4 linked regions of the Homo sapiens genome follow. The protein of the gene in region 3 interacts with the protein of the main gene of each other region in a biochemical or structural test. Each region holds a gene or a part of one and is shown on either strand. Other genes may lie near its edges.

Region 1 (4,128 bases), on a different chromosome or scaffold from region 3:
GGGAGGCTGAGGCAGGATAGTCGCTTGAACCCAGGAGGTGGAGGTTGCAATGAGCCAAGATCATGCCACTGCACTCCAGCCTGGACGACAGAGTGAGACTCCATCACAAGAAAAAAAGAACTTTGTCAACCTCTGTCTTAGGGCGCCTTGTCACAGGCTTCGGGTCAGACGGATTCAACCTTGCATCAGCCATTTGTTAGCCAGGTCACTCTGTTCTTTGTCTGTAAATGAGATTGATCGTTGTTCCCACTGAGAGTGTCAGCTCCTTCCCGTAGAGCAGGCATGATGATTGTACTCACCTCTGACACCATTGTGAGTGCCACATTCCTTCCCACGTCCTTGTCACTGTAAGAGATGCCCACCTGAGCACCAACCCCAGGTTATCTTCCCCTTTGTCTTCCAGCCCCCCAGAAACAGCTACGACTCAACCTACCCAATCATTTCATCATCAGATTGCCACTGTCTCTAGTTCAGGTCTCTTGGAACTGGCACTCAGAAATCTCATAATAAATCCTCTTGAGGCTTCTCATACACTCGTCTTCTTCCAATCTTCTTTCCCTCAAAATCTCATATTTTGGTTCCACTTCACCCACCGTCATTCTCCATATCACTCCCAGGAGTTAGGCAAAAAGCCCCTTCCGTTCTTCCGTATGTTAAACTTAGAATCACTCTGTTCCCTGCTCTGCGTTTCTATTTTTTGTTTTTCCTCCATTTACTAGTAGCTTAACACTTTCTAACAGTGTTCTTATTATTGATACGTATCTATCTCTTCCATAAGCTTATAAGGTCACGGATAATACTTCTCATTGTAGTACGTAAATGACGTGGGCTAGATATGAGTTGAATAAACAGTTATACCTGTAAATTCTTACAGAGTGAAAATAAATTGTTATACTTTACAATTTGTTTCTCTCTTTAGACCATTTCCAGGACTTGTGATTAATAACCGTGAGTATTTTGTGAAGTGTTTTGTTTTTGTTTTTTCCTGGGGTCTGACGTGTGTGCGTGTGAGTGTGTATACATGCTTAACGTATATCACGTTACTTCACCTATGTCAGTAACCAGGCCAAATACTTGTTTTAGCCCTCAGTAAAAACACCAGGCACTTCCTAGTTGTAAAATTATTCAAGCTTCTTAACTTCCTATCCTCGATGCACTTAATCATAAAATGGTAATAATAGCACCGATTTTGGGGGAGTCGTTCCAGTAGATGGAAAGCATCTGGAACAGGTGTCAGCAAGCTCCTGCCGACGTGTATGCATAAAGTTTTATTGAAACCACCATCGTGTCCATTTGTTTATGGCAGAACTGAGAGATGGCAGCAGCAAGTGTGTGCCTGCAAAACCTAAAATATTTACTAATTGGCTCTGCAAGAAAAGAGTTTGCATCCCCCTAACCTAGAACAGTGTCTAGCCTCTAGTATGTGTTTAGCCTACAGTATGTGCTCAGCGAATACAATCTATATTTATTACTGCTTTTATGACTGTTATAATTACTGTGCTTGGATTTCGTTACAAAGTAAGTCACAATGTGCCTGCTTCTGTTAGTATTTCAGCACAGTGCCTGGCACACATGGGGCTCTCAAATATTGCTGAGCGAGTGAACAAATGTCCTTTCAATTCCTTAACGTTGATGTCATTTTCAATAGTATTTTGAGCCAAACTTAATTTTGCGAGTGTGTTTTGTTTTCTTAACTTTATTATTAAAAATGTATAAAAGTGAGGCCAGGCGTGGTGGCTCACGCCTGTAATCCCAGCAGTTTGGGAGGCTGAGGCAGGCGGATCAGTTGAGGTTGGGAGTTGGAGACCAGCCCGTCCAACATGGTGAAAGCCTGTCTCTACTAAAAATACAAAAATCAGCTGGGTGTGGTGGCACGTGCCTGTAATCCCAGCTACTCAGGAGGCTGAGGCAGGAGAGTTGCTTGAATCCTAGAGGTGGAGGTTGCAGTGAGCTGAGATCGTGCCATTGCACTCCAGCCTGGGCAACAAGAGCAAAACTCTGTCCCAATAAATAAATAAATAAAATGTTCTCTTTTGTTCCTGTTCTTGTGCGGTAGTGTGGTATAGAGTTTTATGGTAATTACTGTGAATTAGTGATTCTGAGGGACATATCAGAACTCTGAGGTTTGTTTCCTTCTCATCTTGAGGGAAACAGCAAATGTATGTTAAAATGCTTTTCCAAGGGAACAACACATCCTTACATTATTTAAACCAATCTGCTTCATTTTCAGAGCTGGTTGATCAGAGTGAGTCAGAAGGCCCCGTGATACAAGGTGAGCGAGGCAGGGGAGGGCCCGGAGCTACTCCTGCCTGCACAGTGGCACAATGGCGTGCCTGCGTGTGGCTTTGGCTCTCAGTCACCTGCCCTGAGGGGACTCAGTTACACAGCACACACATGCTTCTCTGTGGTTTTCACTCCTGGGTTTGACAGCTGATCAAAACATAAATTCAAGCTGTGGGTCCTGATTGAGAACTGGGGGCTGCAGACCATTTGCACCCCCTATCCCAGCTCAGGCCTAACATCAGGAACCCCAGGATTAATGGGTAGGATGAAATGGCAGAGCAAGAGGGCCGTCACTTTAACCTGACTCTGCCATCCATTTCTAATGTCTGCCATAAGTCAGTGAGCAAAATGTTCTTCAGTAGAAATGTACACATTGTGCTCTTAAAAAATTCCTTAAAAAACAAGTGGAATGGCCTGGTGCTGTGTGAGTCATTGAAAGTAATGAGACTGGGCGCGGTGGCTCACGCCTGTTATCCCAGCACTTTGGAAGGCTGAGAAGGGTAGATCACTTGAGATCAGGAGTTCGAGACCAGCCTGGCCAACATGGTGCAACCCCGTCTCTACTAAGAATACAAAAACTAGCCAGACGTGGTGGCGTGTGCCGGCTACTCAGGAGGCTGAGGCAGGAGAACCGCTTGAGCCTGGGAGGCGGAGGTCGCAGTGAGCCAAGATCGTGCCACTGCACTCCAGCCTGGGCAACAGAAAGGAGATTCTGTCTCAAAAAAACAAACATACGAAGAAAAACAAAAAAAGTAATGAAAAGCTTTTATTAAAGGGAGTAAACAGAAGGATAAGGGAGAAAGCATAACTAAGGAGCTTGTTTTCATGGTAGAGCTATGTTAAGACTCTGCTCTTTCAAACTTCAGTTGCATATGTGAACTTAGGACCACATTTGAAAAACAGAAATTTGAAAGTACACTTGGATAATCGTGTGCTCCATCTCAAGACCGTGAGCATTGTTTCATCATGCACCTGTGTTTGTACAGAGTCTAGAGGGCTTTTCTCCTCTTCCTCCTCCTGGGTTCTTTACATAGTATAAAGCAGCTGTTGAACAATGTGGAAATCAGTCTCTGTGTTTCTCTTTAGAATCAGCTGAACCAAGCCAGTTGGAAGTTCCAGCCACAGAAGGTAAAAGGGTGGGGTGGTCCTGCAAGTCCTTAAGACTTCTTCTTTCTTCTTCTTCTTTTTTTTTTTTTTAAAGACAGAGACTTGCTCTGTCACCCAGGGTGGAGTGAGGTTGCGCGATCTCTGCAACCTCCGCCTCCCGGGCTCAAGCAGTTCTCCTGCCTCAGCCTCCCGAGTAGCTGGGATTACAGGCCTGCACCACCATGCTTGGCTAATTTTTGTATTTTTAGTAGAAACGGGGTTTCACCATGTTGGCCAGGCTAGTCTCAGACTTCTGACCTCAAGTGATCCGCCAGCCTTGGCCTCCAAAGTGCTCGGATTACAGGCGCGAGCCACCTTGCCCAGCCAAGACTTTTTTATCAGGACAAAGGATTGTGCATTTAAACTATTTCACTAGAACTGGGTGGTGGTTTTGCTCTCTTTCTTCTGGGTGAATTGGATTTGCAGGTTATGCTGTTGAGTGATGACGCATAGCTGCTTTTGCTCCATTTCCCCCAGATGACTTGGTAAATTCTCCGTGAATGACTCTGCTACATAACCTAGATAACCTAACGTGTGTCCTTTAAATGCATGTAAGCCAGAAGATGTATGTTACTTTGAAAACATAAGTAACAAAATTTTGAATGTATTGCTAAAGAGATGTCTCTCTGAAGCTCTTTTGATGTTTGGTGTCTTGTCCTTCTTATTAAACCATATCTTAGTAAATAGTTTGGTACGAAT
Region 2 (4,767 bases), on a different chromosome or scaffold from region 3:
CAGCCCCCACTGAGACAGCACTGAGTAGCAGATGGACACACGGAGCTAGGTGTCTGGCTGCCTCACAAGGGAGTGGATCCCATCGCTGCAGGCTGTTCAGATTCTAGAGACGATGGCCTAGCCTCGCCCCTCAAGGTGTGGTCTGAACTAGCAGCAGCAGCGTCATCTAGGAGCTTGTCAGAGAGGCAGCATCTGGAGCCCCTCTATAAATCCGAAGCTGAATTTTTATATAATAAATCCGAATCTGCATTTTCTTTTCTTTTTCTTTCTTTTTTTTTTTTTTCTTTTTTGAGATGGAGTCTTGCTCTGTCACCTAGGCTGGAGTGCAGTGGCACGATCTCGACTCACTGCAACCTTCGCCTCCCAGGTTCAAGCAATTCTTGGGAGGCCTCAGCCTCCCAAGTAGCTAGGATTACAGGTGCATGCCACCATGCCCAGCTAATTTTTTGTATTTTTAGTAGAGACGGGGTTTCACCATGCTGGCCAGGCTGGTCTCAAACTCCTGACCTCATGATCCACCCACCTCGGCCTCCCAAAGTGCTGGGATTACAGGCATGAGCCACCACGCCCAGCCCGAATCTGCATTTTCATAAATCCACAGGTGATTCACATAGAAACGGTCTAGGCTTTTGGGTTCCCTTCTAAGTCAGAGGTTCAGCTCCCTTGGCTTGTGGGCAATGGAGGGAGGACTGTCAGAAATGACTCTCAGGTCCCTCCCACCTGAAAACAGGAGTGCCAGGAAATAGACCAGCAGCTGTGCACCTTGGCTCCCACTGTGGACCCCTCTACTGGCCATGCTTGTCAGGGGGCAGGACTCTGTAGGCCCCGATACCCAGGAGAGGCTATTAATGATATCAACTATTCTAGTGTACAATTATCTCATGTGATACCATATGTATGTCATGTGCCAAGTGCTGTTGTCTCATTTACCCCTCCAATGTGAGGTGCCATCATTATGCCCATTTTAAAGATGAGAAAACTGGAGCTCAAACCGTGTAGTAACACAGCCAGTAAGAGACAGAATCAGGATTGACATCCAAGTTCAAGTTGACATCCAAGGCCCAAACTCAAGTTGTCCCATTGTGCCTCAGTTTCCCCAGGGCCTTGCTGTGATATCTGGTGGTGGGGGGCAAGGCTCATGATATCTGGGGCAGGAGTACTGGGCATGGAGTTTTTTGGGCAAGAGTTGAGATTCAAGTTCTGCCAGTGACTTGCTACGTGACTGAACATGTGGACAAACGGCTTTGGAAGGTGGAGGTGAAGCTCAGTTTTCTCCTCTGTAAACTGGAGTAGAGACAACCTGTTTCTGAGTGATGATGGAGATTAAATGAGGTTCTGGCCAGTCCTTGATCAATGTGATTTTGCTTGTGTCCAGGTGTCTGCCTCCTGCCCCGGTCCACAGCCAGGAGCCCCGGAGCCAACGGCCAGCCTGGAAGACTTACAGTTCTCCCTCTGAGGGTTGCTGTGGCTTTCCATGTTGTGGTGACTAAGTCCCTGTGTTTCTGTGCAGTCCCTGCTTCCTGGGACCAGGGAAGAATGGTCCCGTAAGTCTCACCCTAATGGCAAGTCTAGGACAGCTTTACTTTGTTCTCGTATAATCCTGGGCCCCTTCTCCCTCCTAGAGCCCCAAGTCCCCTATTCCAACTACCCAAGCCACCCACACTGGCATCATGCCCTACCCATCCCCTTTGGAAGAACAAACAGCAGGACAGGATGCCAGCGTGGTTCTCAGGCTTCCCAGGCACGAAGACTTGGAGCCTGAGGGAGAGAAGCTCCTGCCCGTGCTCCTCAAAGGAGCGTGAAAATACAGTGAGATCGTGGCTTGTGGTGGGGCCGATTCCATGGCTCTGGGAACTCAGCATTTGCCGAGGGGATGACAAGGCTTAGCAGCTGTGGCCTTGGTCCAGTTTGGGCTTGGGGAGGCACAGACTGGAGTGCTTCTCCCCCTACATCCATGTCATTCTGGGCTCCACCATGGCTCTCCTCTATTGCTCTGACCTTTCTTTGCTGTGTGGCTTTGGGCAAGTTGCTTACCCTTTCTGAGCCTCACTTGACTGAAAACTGGGGTTGCAAGTTGCTTACCCTTTCTGAGCCTCACTTAACTGAAAATTCCTTATGGGATTGTTGTGCATGTTAGACAAGGTAGATGTCCCACAGGCTCTTTGGTGAATGTCCCATGCAGCATTCAGGGATAAGGCCATTACTCCACAGAGGTGTCTCCTGTTCCCCTCTAGCTAGGGCGGGCGGGTCACTCACTGCCTAAGAGTCCAACAGCATTGATGCCCTTGCAGAATGAACCTTCCAATCAGCTAGGCATCCATCCAAATGCTGGCTCAGAGTTAGGCCAAGCATGTCATGTCTTGAGTGCCCCCATTCATAATGAGGATACATTAAAGTCCTCTTCAATTTGCCTGGTAAGTTTGATGAATGATCATGAATGGTCTTCACAGAGGCCTCACAAACTGTATACCCTTCACCTGGGAAGATGCTGAGGCCCAGAGAAGGCAAGACACATATCTGAGGTCACACAGCAGGGCTGGCCGGAGGCAGCTCTGAGTTCCAGGGAGAGAAGCCCTGCTTAGGCATGGGGGCCAGACTGTGCCCAATGTGGGGCCCTGGAGGAATTCTGCCAAGGGGGTCCTTGGCTGCGATTTTACATCCCCACCCCCTCCACACCCAAATAGTCAGCAGTGCATTCCAGGGCCCGGGCCTCCTTACCTTTGAGAGGAGGCAGAGGAGGGAGAAGGCCAGGAGGTGGGTCTTCGGTGTGCCTCTCATGTCCCCTGCAGAGCCAGCTTTGAGCCTGGGAGGCGGACCTGTGAGTCTTTATGTTCCGGCAGCTGTGAGGTCACTCCCAGGCACACACAGGCACACGCACGAGTACACACGCGCGCGCGCGCGCGCGCTCACACACACACACACACACACACACACACACAAACACACTAGCTTTTTCATTCCTTGCTTCGCTTCCCATCCTCATGGCTCAAAGGATGAGCCCATTTACCTGAAGGTGAAACTGTGAAGGCCACCAAGGGGGTGCCTGTCCGTGTGTGTGTGTGTGTGTGTGTGCGCGTGTGTGTGTGTGAAAGCCTGAGCCAGTGCCAGCACCAAGAGCCTGTGACAGCTTGCAGAGGCCTCTCCAGCTCCTTCCAGCCCAAGAGGGTCCTAGCCCTGCTGTAGTTGTGAAGCCCTATTCCAGACCCCCTGTCCGAACCCCAGCGGGGCTGCAGATACCAGAAGCATTCAGTAAACAACCCCTTTGCAGAGCTGACCCAAGGTCTCCTAAGCTCCGTGGCCCTGACTCTGGGTAGCCGCGGCCCAGCCTGCGGTTTCTGGCAGGCAGATTGGCAGCCACCCAGAGGTGGGTGTGACCCAGAGCAAAACTTCCCTGGGCGGCCTGTTTGCTCTTGGCAATAAGGGGCCTCCCTTGGCCTGCCTCCCGGCTCTGGAAGGGGGCCCGTGGTGGGCGAGTCCGGGCAGGCTGGACCTACTATGTGCCAGCGCTTGCTGGGCACCGCTAGATGATGGGGTCAAGCCAAATCCATTTGGTTTCATTCGGCCGCCTCTGAGTTCGCCTCTGCAGGAGCTGGAGGCACAACACTGACCTGAGGACAAGGCCCAGAGAGGGAGAAAACAGAGGGAAAACAGGTGGAAGTTCAGGAATACCAGGCAAGGTCCCTTGCTCAGACCAAGAGTGAGGGACACTTTCTGATGGAGGTGCCATTTCAGAAAGCCAAGAAAAGAGAGGGTGAGAGAGGGCAGAATGTTCCAGGCCAAGGGAACAGTACGTACCAACGCCTAGATGTCGGACATAGCATGATAGCCTGCTTATTCTGGGAGCCAAAGCGCCTGGTATGAGTGGAGCCTTCTGTGCAACGGGAAATGGTGATGTCTGTGAAGGGTGAGACACACAAGTTCACATCACCAAGATTTGGGGACATCTACTATGTGCCAGCCATGGGGGCGGGGGACAGAAAGACATGGGCTTTGTTTGTAGAATTTGGCAAAGATAAAAGAGGTGATGTCAAGGGCTGTCTGGGGCCCCCATTACCTCCACCAGTAGTTGTCCAAACCTCAAAGTGATCTAGCTGGATAGCAGAGGTTCCAGAATGGGCGATTGGTGAGGAAGAAGTGTGACTTGATATAGTGGCAAGACGGGGATTGTGAGCATGGAGGAGATTCCCCACGGGTGCTGTCCCATCGGAAGAGGCAATGGAAACGGAAGGTGAAGATGAAAGTGTGGGATTTGATTATTTATGGCAGGAAGAGGTGGCCAGGGTGGAGATGGGGGTCTGGAAACTTGGAGGAAAAGAAACAGAAGGGATCTTTTAAATTTTGTTTTATTTTTTGGGATTCTTGTGGAAATGCTAATGTTTTAGTCAGAAGCATGCCTAGAATAATTTACATCCACAGTGGATCATTTTTAACACCCCTCTTCCTTCATAGTACAAAATTATTTTCAGTAATAATCATGAAACAAAACAAATATTTTTCATGTATGAATTAAAATTTGCACTTACCAAACAAAATCATTACCATTCACAGTTCACACTGTTTTACTCTTTTAAAAACTGTAAATACAAATCAAAACTCCAAGTAGTTTCGTAAAATGACAAAATTGAAATACCCTTATCGTCATCTTTCCCATCATTCTGCGTTCATAGTTGATTTCACTCTACTGTTTAAACACAGAAATACAGCTGGGCCGGTGGCTCACGTCTGTAATTTGGGAGGCCAAAGTGGGAGAACCACCTGAGATCAGGA
Region 3 (4,490 bases):
TCCAGCTACTTGGGAGGCTAAGGCAGGAGAATCGCTTGAACCCGGGAGGCAGAGGTTGTGGTGAGCTGAGATCATGCCATTGCACTCCAGCCTGGGCAAAAAGAGCGAAACTCCGTCTCAAAAAAAAGAAAGAAAGAAAGTTACTTAGACTCTCTGAGCCTTAGATTCCTCCCGTGTTAATCTGAAAATAAGAGCCATCAGAGTTGTCTGATGGCAACAGAATGATCATATATATGTTGTAATAGATAGCACTTAGTAGTGTCTGGTGCTTGGCAAACCTACAAAAAGTGGTAACTCTTCCTATTTCTACTCTGCAAGTCATATGCAAGCTGGAGCTATAGGCATCAAAGAAGAACAGAAACTCAGTGGGTGGCCTGACAGAGAGGTAGGGCTTAGGAACAGGAAGAGGCCTGAGGCTTCTGCTGGCTGTGACAGGGCTTGGTATTATTATAATGCAGAGACTAGGTCCAGATGCCAGCCTGGAGCTATTGATAAAAAACCCAAAAGGAAGAACTTAAAAACAGGTTTTACCAAACCAAACCAGACAATGAAAAGCAATTTCCAATAGTCCTGGAAGCCCTGAAGCCAGACACTTCCAGATGTTCAGACACTTCCTCACTCAGAAGGGATCGGGGGATATCCTTGGAGGAAGAGAGTTGCAGAGATCCCCAAGAGTCAGAGCAGTAAAGCCCAGGTCCAGAGGAGAGATTCGGAGGCCTGAATTCTAAGACAGAAGCAGATTCTAGAAGGGGCTGAGAAGCCCATCAGGCTCTGCAGCAGAGCCGGCTCAAACCTCTAACCCTGCGTGGGAGCAAGACAGCGTGTCCCACAAGTGTCCAGCTGTGGTTATCCCTCAGTCATGTAAGGAAATCTGTTCCCCATTAAGTGCATCTGTTTCTGCACTTCTTGGTTCTGTTGTCTTTCCCTTTCATTTTTCAGCAAAGTTTTGGGATTAAAAAAAAATTCCATCCTATCCTTTTTCCCCCCTAATTCATTCCATCTACAAATATTTTGTATGTATCTCAGAAAGATAAAGACTTTTAAAAAAAAAAAAAAAACATAACCACAATGCAATTATCCCACCCGAAAAAATTAACAGAGCAAAGAAATCAAAGAGCCTTAGAGAGTATTACGCAGGCAGTGACCTGTCCAGCTCAAGACCTGGAAAGACTGAGAAAAATGCTGGCAAGACTATAGGGTGCTACAGACTTTCTGGACGGCAATTTGGCAGCAAATATAAAAAATTTTAGGCCAGGCTCAGTGGCTCACGCCTATAATCCCAGCACTTTGGAAGGCTGGGGCAGGAGGACATTTGAGCCCAGGAGTTTGAGACCAGCCTGGGCAACAAGGCAAGACTCCGTCTCTACCAAAAAAAAAAAAAAAAAAAAAAAAAAAAAAAAAAATTAGCCAGGTGTCGTGGTGCACACCTATGATTCCAGCTACTCGAGGGGCTGAGGCAGGAGGATCGCTTGAACCCAGGAGTTCAAGATTGCAGTGAGCTATAATCATGCCACTGTACTCCAGCCTGGGTGACAGAATGAGACCCTGTCTCAAAAAAAAAAAAAAAAAAAAAATTAATGCACACAGCCTTTGACCTAGCAGCAACCATTCTACTATCTAACCCACTCAAACAAGAATGCAAAGATGTATAATGTAAGGGGGTTCATTGCCACATTATTATTGTAATACCAAAAAAATGGAAAATAATCTATCCACATAGTAAATTATTATACAGCTGATAAAATACTGAAGCAGATCTATATTAGCTAGCTGAAAACAGCTATATGATGTAAAGCAGCATACGTAGAATGACCCTATTTGTATTTACGAAAAACCAAAAACCACACAAACTGTAAATGAGTGTATATGTGTTTGTTTATATGTACATACAGAATAGTATATTTGCAATCTATAGAAAAAGGTCTATCCAAAACAATAAAAACTATTAACAGTGGTTACTCCTGTGGAATAGGTCTGGGATTGTGTGAACGCCAACACCATATTTTGGTGCTGTTTTAAAATTTTGCAATAAATACGTGTTACTTTTGTCATTAAAAATAACAAAGAAAAGAGTGAGGAAATTGTAGCAGACTAAAGGAGGTAAGCCAGAGGCAATTAAACTAATACCTTCCCATTTACTTTTTCCCTTTTAAACCTCCCCAGCAAGCCTATTGAAAGTAGGCTGAAGTCCCTGCTCCCAGACCTGCTATAGTTCTCCTCAGGACCCCTCTCCTCTGCATCAGCCTCATCAGTCCTGTCATAGGTCAGGAGGTCTGCAGGCACGTCATGAATCTGGACACTAGGTGCATGGTTCAGCATCTTCAGGTTTTCAAAGATTGTCTGGCGGATCTGGTCCAGATACTGGTTGGAAATGAGGAATACAGAGTGAGCAGTTTCCAGAGATTCCCAGGACATGGAATCTCCTAGCTGCCTTTTACCCCTACCATACTGGTTTTCATCTCAGTGGTACCTCTAGTTCAGGTCCCCCAACTGATAGCTCTCCCTCCCCACCAACCCCAACTGCCTCTACTTTAAACTGGACTGCCTCCTAGTCAATAACAGTGACTGTGATGGCTTAGAACTTCCTTCTCTTTGGTTTTTCCTACTTCCCACATCTTTGACCTCTCCTGGGCTCCACCTTTCAGGAGAAGTTTGTGCTCAGCTTTTCTGAGCTGCTGACCTGGCGTGAGTTCTGATTCTCGATGCGGGTGCTGACATCTGGATGAAGTGTGAAGTCTGGGGCAAAGTACTCGAAGTATTCTTGGGGAGGAGAGGAGAAAGTATGGCTCAGACTGAGAAAGGCAGCTAACAAGACTTCCCAATCTTTTTCCTTCCCATCCAGAGCACCTACATAATAGCTGCCCAATCTCTTCCCTGCTCTGAGCCCAGGGGTTTAGTCTGCAGAGCTCTGAGAGTGTAAAATTTCCCATGTGCCTTCAAACCAGGTCATTCTGGAATCTGGTGAGAATGGCCTTCCTGTTATGGGGGTGTTGTGGGGTGGTCCTTACCACTATAGGGAAGCTCCTCACTAATGGCCTCTTCTACCAGCAGCGATGTCTCATATGTCCTGAAACCAACCAGCAGAGGGGAGCAGGCTGACCAAGTGGGCTGAAGGACCCATGTGGCCATATCTGAGGGACACCCTAGCTCACACTGGACAACAGGGGAGGAAATCAGGAGAGTGCTCACCAGCAGCGGGCAACATTTCGGACAGTATAACCACCACCACCCAGCACGAGTAGAGGGATATTGAAGCTCTTGACATATTCAACGCATTCCCTGTTAAAAGGAACCAGAGGAAGATGTGGAGGAGGTTATCAAAAGACAAGGTAAATACCTTTAGGTATTGCCTGAAAGGAGCACAAGAAAACTATAAATGTTCTAAATCTTTATCTTGATAGTGAAATTCATTATGTTATACCCTTAAGATTTGGGTATACTTTATATGCTGTGTCTCAATAAAAATTTTAAAATAAAGCACAGTCCCCCCTCTGTTCTGCTCAACACCCTCCCTGGCACCCTGCCTGCTAATCAACTATTCTCATCAACCCAAGTTCTGTCAATTCTAGCCTTGAAAATATAACTCACGCCCGGCGCGGTGCTCACGCCTTTGTAGTAGTCCCAGCTACTCAGGAGGCTGAGGCAGGAGAAATGCTTGAACCCAGGAGGCAGAGCTTGCACTGAGCCAAGATCGTGCCACTGCACTCCAGCCTGGGTGACAGAGCAAGACTCCATCTCAAAAAAGAAAAAAAAAAACATATATATGTGTGTGTGTGTGTGTATATATATATATATACACACACACACACACACACCTCTCAGATCATCTACTTCTCTCCATTGCCACCCCCTCCACCTTAGTCTGGGCACCTAACCAACACCATGGCTTCCTAACTGGTCTTTCTACTTCCATCTCCATCCCCCCTACCCAAACCTTTCTCTATTCAGCAGTCAGAATTGTCACTTTCAAACACAAATTGGATCATGTCACTTTCCTGCTTAAAATCCTTCAATGGTTTCCCATCATCTTTGGAATATAATTCAAACTCCTTACCAGGGTTTAAAGGCTCTGCACAATCTCACCATGGCCAGCTTCTCGGACCTCACCTCAACAGACTGAAGTCCAGTGGCACAATCATAGTTCACTGTAACCTCAAACTCCTAGGCTCAAGTGATCCTCCTGCCTCAGCTTCCTGAGTAGCTAGGACTATAGGCATGCACCATCATGCCCAGCTGATTTTGTTTTTTATTTTCTGTAGAGATGGCTCTCACTATGTTGCCCAGGCTGGCCTCAAACTCCTAGCCTCAGGCGATTCTCCCACCTTGGCCTCTGGAAGTGTTGGGATTATAGGTGTGTGCCACTGGGCCCAGCCCTCAGAGCCTTTTGTGGGCCTTTGTCCATGCTTGGGTCAGGCTTCTCTCTGCTCCTCTTATGACTCACTCCTTCTTAGTCTCCAGGTCTCAACTCAAATTTTACTTCCTCAGAAAAA
Region 4 (4,730 bases), on a different chromosome or scaffold from region 3:
GGCCTCTGTTCAGGTCAAACTACGATGTTCTTTATTCCCCCAACATATTCCTACTTTCTCCCTCATTTAAATTCCACCTGACTTTTAAGATTTGGTTCAAGCCAGGGGCGATGGCTCACGCCTGTAATCCCAGCACTTTGGGAGGCCAAGGCACGTGGATCACCTGAGGTCAAGAGTCCAAGACCAGCCTGGCCAACATGGTGAAACCCCATCTCTACGAAAAATACAAAAATTTAGCCGGGTGTGGTGGACGGCGCCTGTGATCCCAGCTATGCAGGAGGCTGAGGCAAGAGAATCGCTTGAACCTGGGAGGTGGAGGCTGCAGTGAGCCGAGATCGTGCCATTGCACTCCAGCTTGGGAAACAAGGGCAAAACTCCGTCTCAAAAAAAAAAAAAAAAAATTTTGATTCAAATAGTTTTTTACCCAGTCTTTCTTGAAGGGTCGAACAATTATTTTGTAGACTAAGGTTGTTAGCTAGGATTCAGAAATAGATTTCTGTTAACTCCTAATACTGTCTGTAAAATTTTATCTAAAGGTGCATTTTTCTAGACAAGTTCATAAAAGACTTCAAGAGGCTGTAGATGGTCTTGTCACTGAAAAACGGCAACGAATTATATTTATACTATTATTTATTGTATGCTGTTTTGTTTTTATTCCCCAAGAGTAGGGATTATACATTGTGTGGCAGACACACAGACGGTGTGTGTTTGGGGATGTTTGCTCCCTCAAAATCCTTCCTTAAGATGCGGTGCCTGTAATTCCAGCTACTCAACAGGCTGAGGCAGGAGGATAGCTTGAGGCCAGAGATCTGTCTGGATAACAAAATGAGGCCCCCCACCATTTCTATAAAACAAAACAAAAAAACCTTTCCTAGAAGAAACTAACATGCCCCTTGAAAAACTAAGATTAGCAACATTTCATAAAACCCACTTTTTTTTTTTTTTTTGAGACGGAGTTTCGCTCTTCTTGCCCAGGCTGGAGTGCAATGGCGCGATCTCAGCTCACTGCAACCTCCGCCTCCCGGGTTCAAGCAATTCTCCTGCCTCGGCCTCCGGAGTTGCTGGGATTACAGGTGTGCGCCACCACGCCCGACTAATTTTGTATTTTTAGTAGAAACGGGGTTTCTCCATGTTGGTCAGGCTGGTCTCGAACTCCCGACTTCAGATGATCCGCCCACCTCAGCCTCCCAAAGTGCTGGGATTACAGGTGTGAGCCACCGCGCCCAGCCGCGACCCACTTTTAATGATAGAAATACACATCGCTTTTTCAGATATACTAACTGGACTTAAAGCAAAGTTTAAAAACAATCATCGGCCGGGCGCGGTGGCTCACGCCTGTAATCCCAGTACTTTGGGAGGCCGAGGCGGGTGGATCAGAGGCGGGTACATCACGAGGTCAGAGTATCAAGACCATCCTGGCCAACATAGTGAAACCCCACCTCTACTAAAAATACAAAAAACAAAAACAAAAACAAAAACAAAAAAACTAGCTGGGTGTGGTGGCTCGTGTCTGTAATCCCAGCTACTCGGGAGGCTGAGACAGGAGAATCGCTTGAACCTGGAGGCGGAGGTTGCAGTGAGCCGAGATCGCGCCACCGCACTCCAGCTTGGCGACAGTGAGACTCCCTCTCCCTCTCAAAAAAAAAAAAAAAAAAAGAAAAAAAAATCGAGTATCACCAACCACACAGCAGAAATGGTTCAAAAAAGCTCAAAATCGAAGGTCCATTTACAAATTCTAGCGGTACTAAACCCTAAAGGCCGTAATTTTAGGTCTTTCTGCTTTTGCTTTCCGGTTACTTTTTTAAAGGCTGACCTACTTACTGAAGATTATGGGACAACCTGGCAACATTCGTACTGCACAAAAATGGTATCTGCCCGAGTTGGAAGAATTATTTCTTAACAAAAGAGCTATCTATCGGAAGCTTGGACATGCCCCCTGCAGTGAGAACCCTGGGGCCGTTCCATTTCTTCTGAAAAGATCCAGGCCCACAGGCAGCGACGACCCTGGCCAGATTTGCCGTGAGAGAAAAGTGAAAGTGGGGGGAGTCATTCTGTCCGTCCCGTGAAAGCACGGGAGTTAGTGACGGGATGCAGGCCGGGACTTGCGGCCACTAGCCGAGGGTCGGCCTCTCCCACGTCTCACTCGTGCCGGCGTTAGCCGTGCGCCCTGGAAGCCCCGGCGCTGCGCGCGGCTCTCCCGGGCGGGGAAAGCTGCAGCGCCGCGGAAGCTTTCCCTGCAGGTTAAAGGTCAGAGGCGCTGCGGTAAGCGCAGCTGGAAAGGGGGTTGTGTGCTCCAAGCCGCTCGCCGTCCGGCCCCGCGTCCCGCCGCCCCTGTCGCCCCCGCCTCTCCCGGGGCCCCGCGCATTTGGCGCCGCAGCTCCGCGCTCCCAGCCGAAGTCGAGCAGCCCCAAGCGGCGCTCCCAAACTGAACGGCTCCGCTGGCCGCAGGACGCCGGCCGGGGGATGCGCTGGGACCGCGTCCGTTGGCGGTTGGGGTGAAGGGCACCCCCTGGCCCCCGCCCCCGACGCGGTCGCTGGTGTCCCCACCCAGCGTTTCTTACCGGCGCTTTTGCGCCCTGCTGACTCCGGCGTCGGGCGCCGACGCGACAGTCCCGCGGCTGCCACTCGTGGATTGGGGGGCGCTCCGGGAAGAGAGGTTGAAGAAAGCCGACGGGATGTGGGATCGAGATTCACGGCGGAGAGAGCTTTCTGTGTTTGGGTATTTCTGGGGGGTCAGAGTTCGTGACCTCTTTCTCGGCTCGGCGGCGCGCTATCCCGCCAGCGCCTGCGCATTAGCAACGGGGAGAAGCGGCGAGAGGAGGTCGTGACGTTCCCAGGGTGGGGTGGAGGGATCGGAGGGCCGAGCAGCGGCTCTGTGAGTCCACTGCCCCCTTTTGGCTTGGAGGCAGAGTGCCCCGCCAGAGCTACGCGTTCCCAGCCAGGTAATTTTTGAAGCCACGTGCAAAGGTTTAAGCATCGTTTGCCAAAGGTGGGCATTAGGGGAGGTTTTGAGTCAACGTTTTAGATTTGAGTAATAAATAACCCTCTGGGTCTTAGGCATATCTGTTTCTAATTTCTGGAAAACTGGGCTCTGGGGTAGAGTCCAATCATATTTAAACTTTTTTTTTTTTGTATTACACTTTAAGTTCTAGAGTACATGTACACAACGTGCAGGTTCGTTACATATGTATACATGTGCCATGTTGGTGTGCTGCACCCATTAACTCGTCATTTACATTAGTAAGCTTTATATATAATGACAAGCTGAGGCCGACTCATGCAAATGGTAAGGCAAAGTTTCACTTATAAACTGTTGTGAGTAAAGAGACATAATGGCTAAACAGGGCAAGAATATAATCACTAGAGACTGGGCACGGTAGCTCACGCCTGTAATCCCAGCAAGTTGGGAGGCCGAGGCGGACGGATCACTTGAGCCCGGTTGTTTGAGGCCAGCCTGGCCAACATGGCGAAAACCCGTCTCTACAAAAAAATTAGCCAGTCCTGGTGGCGCGTGCCTGTCGTCCCAATTACTTGGAGGCTGAGGTGGGAGGATCACCTGAGTCAAGACGGCAGTGAGCCAAGATCACACCACCGCACTCCAGCCTGGGTGACACAATGAGTCTTTCTCTCTCTCTCTATATATACACACACACATATATATGTATATTCCACATCCTCTCTATAATATATATATTATTATATATTGAGGATTATCCTCAATGGCCGTTTTTTGTCTGTTTTGCTCAGTGATGTATTACCAAGCACATAGGACAATGCCTGCTATTCAATAATGATGTATGAAATGAAAGCCAGGCAAGTGGCTGCTGGGAGGCCAAGGAAAGATCACTTGGGGCCAGCAGTTGGAGACCGGCTTGGGCAAGATAACAAAACCCTGCCTCCACAAAAAAAATTTTTCAAATTGTGAAATGAAGAGACATTGGTGGAACATCGCATTCTGACAGTGGCCACCTGTAGTGGCAAGGTGTGGCAGGAATAACTGCCCTGTGTGCAAAGTACTCTGCGCTTTAGATTTTGAAGCATTCTTGAAATTTCTAGTTTTTTTTTAAATCTCCTTTGTTTTGTCATGAAATTTCTATTTTATCTAGCTTAGGTCGGCACTGTAGGAAAGCAGCCACAAACTCAGGGCAGAAATCCAAGGAAGGAAAAACAAACGTTTGCTGGGAATGAGAACATCTCTGTTATTTCTCTCTGGAACTAGGCAGACGGACAGAGATCAAGGCATGAAACAATCCCTAACAAGTAAAAATATGCTTTATCCCTCATTAAAAATCCACCTCTGCTGAGCACAGTGGCTTCTGCCCCCAGAGCCTTGGGAGGCTGAGGTAGGAGGCTTGCTTGATGCCAGGAGTTTGAGACCAGCCTGGGCAACATAGTGAGACTCCATCTCTTAAAAAAAAAAGAAAAAAAAAAGGCATGGTGGTGCAGGCCTGTATTCCTAGTTACTGAGGAGGCTGAGGTGGGAGGATTGCTTAAGCCCAGGAGTCTGGTCCAGTGTTGGCACCATTGCATTCCAGCCTGGGCGAGAGTGAAACTTTTTTTTTTTTCCAACCTCTACCTTTTAGCATTATTTGTTGTGTATTTGGTTTGGTTTTAAGGGAGACCCCTGCCAATACCATAAGCTGGTCCCAAAGGTGAAAATTATGAAAGTATAGTCACGTCAGGGATATGTTCTGAGAAATGAGTCCTTAGGCAATTTCATTTTACTCTCA

What was found.
Region 1: the proteins of HDAC3 (region 3) and GTF2I form a complex in vitro, tested with the Homo sapiens proteins (2 studies listed by BioGRID).
Region 2: the proteins of HDAC3 (region 3) and CCN5 form a complex in vitro, tested with the Homo sapiens proteins (one study listed by BioGRID).
Region 4: the proteins of HDAC3 (region 3) and NR2C1 form a complex in vitro, tested with the Homo sapiens proteins (4 studies listed by BioGRID).

The regions. Positions count from the first base shown.
Region 1 is NC_000007.14:74,754,590-74,758,717, forward strand, and holds part of GTF2I (general transcription factor II-I), read left to right. Parts: intron 1-919; coding exon 920-948; intron 949-2,230; coding exon 2,231-2,272; intron 2,273-3,369; coding exon 3,370-3,411; intron 3,412-4,128. UniProt on the Homo sapiens protein: Interacts with the basal transcription machinery by coordinating the formation of a multiprotein complex at the C-FOS promoter, and linking specific signal responsive activator complexes.
Region 2 is NC_000020.11:44,713,402-44,718,168, reverse strand, and holds the start of CCN5 (CCN family member 5 isoform 1 precursor), read right to left. Parts: upstream 2,801-4,767; 5' UTR 2,779-2,800; coding exon 2,719-2,778; intron 1,545-2,718; exon of another isoform or gene 1,376-1,544; intron 1-1,375.
Region 3 is NC_000005.10:141,623,005-141,627,494, forward strand, and holds part of HDAC3 (histone deacetylase 3), read right to left. Parts: intron 3,280-4,490; coding exon 3,190-3,279; intron 3,068-3,189; coding exon 3,009-3,067; intron 2,761-3,008; coding exon 2,681-2,760; intron 2,362-2,680; coding exon 2,204-2,361; coding exon of another isoform or gene 2,116-2,203; exon of another isoform or gene 1,858-2,115; intron 1-1,857. UniProt on the Homo sapiens protein: Histone deacetylase that catalyzes the deacetylation of lysine residues on the N-terminal part of the core histones (H2A, H2B, H3 and H4), and some other non-histone substrates.
Region 4 is NC_000012.12:95,070,819-95,075,548, forward strand, and holds the start of NR2C1 (nuclear receptor subfamily 2 group C member 1), read right to left. Parts: upstream 2,801-4,730; 5' UTR 2,562-2,800; intron 1-2,561. UniProt on the Homo sapiens protein: Orphan nuclear receptor. Binds the IR7 element in the promoter of its own gene in an autoregulatory negative feedback mechanism. Primarily repressor of a broad range of genes.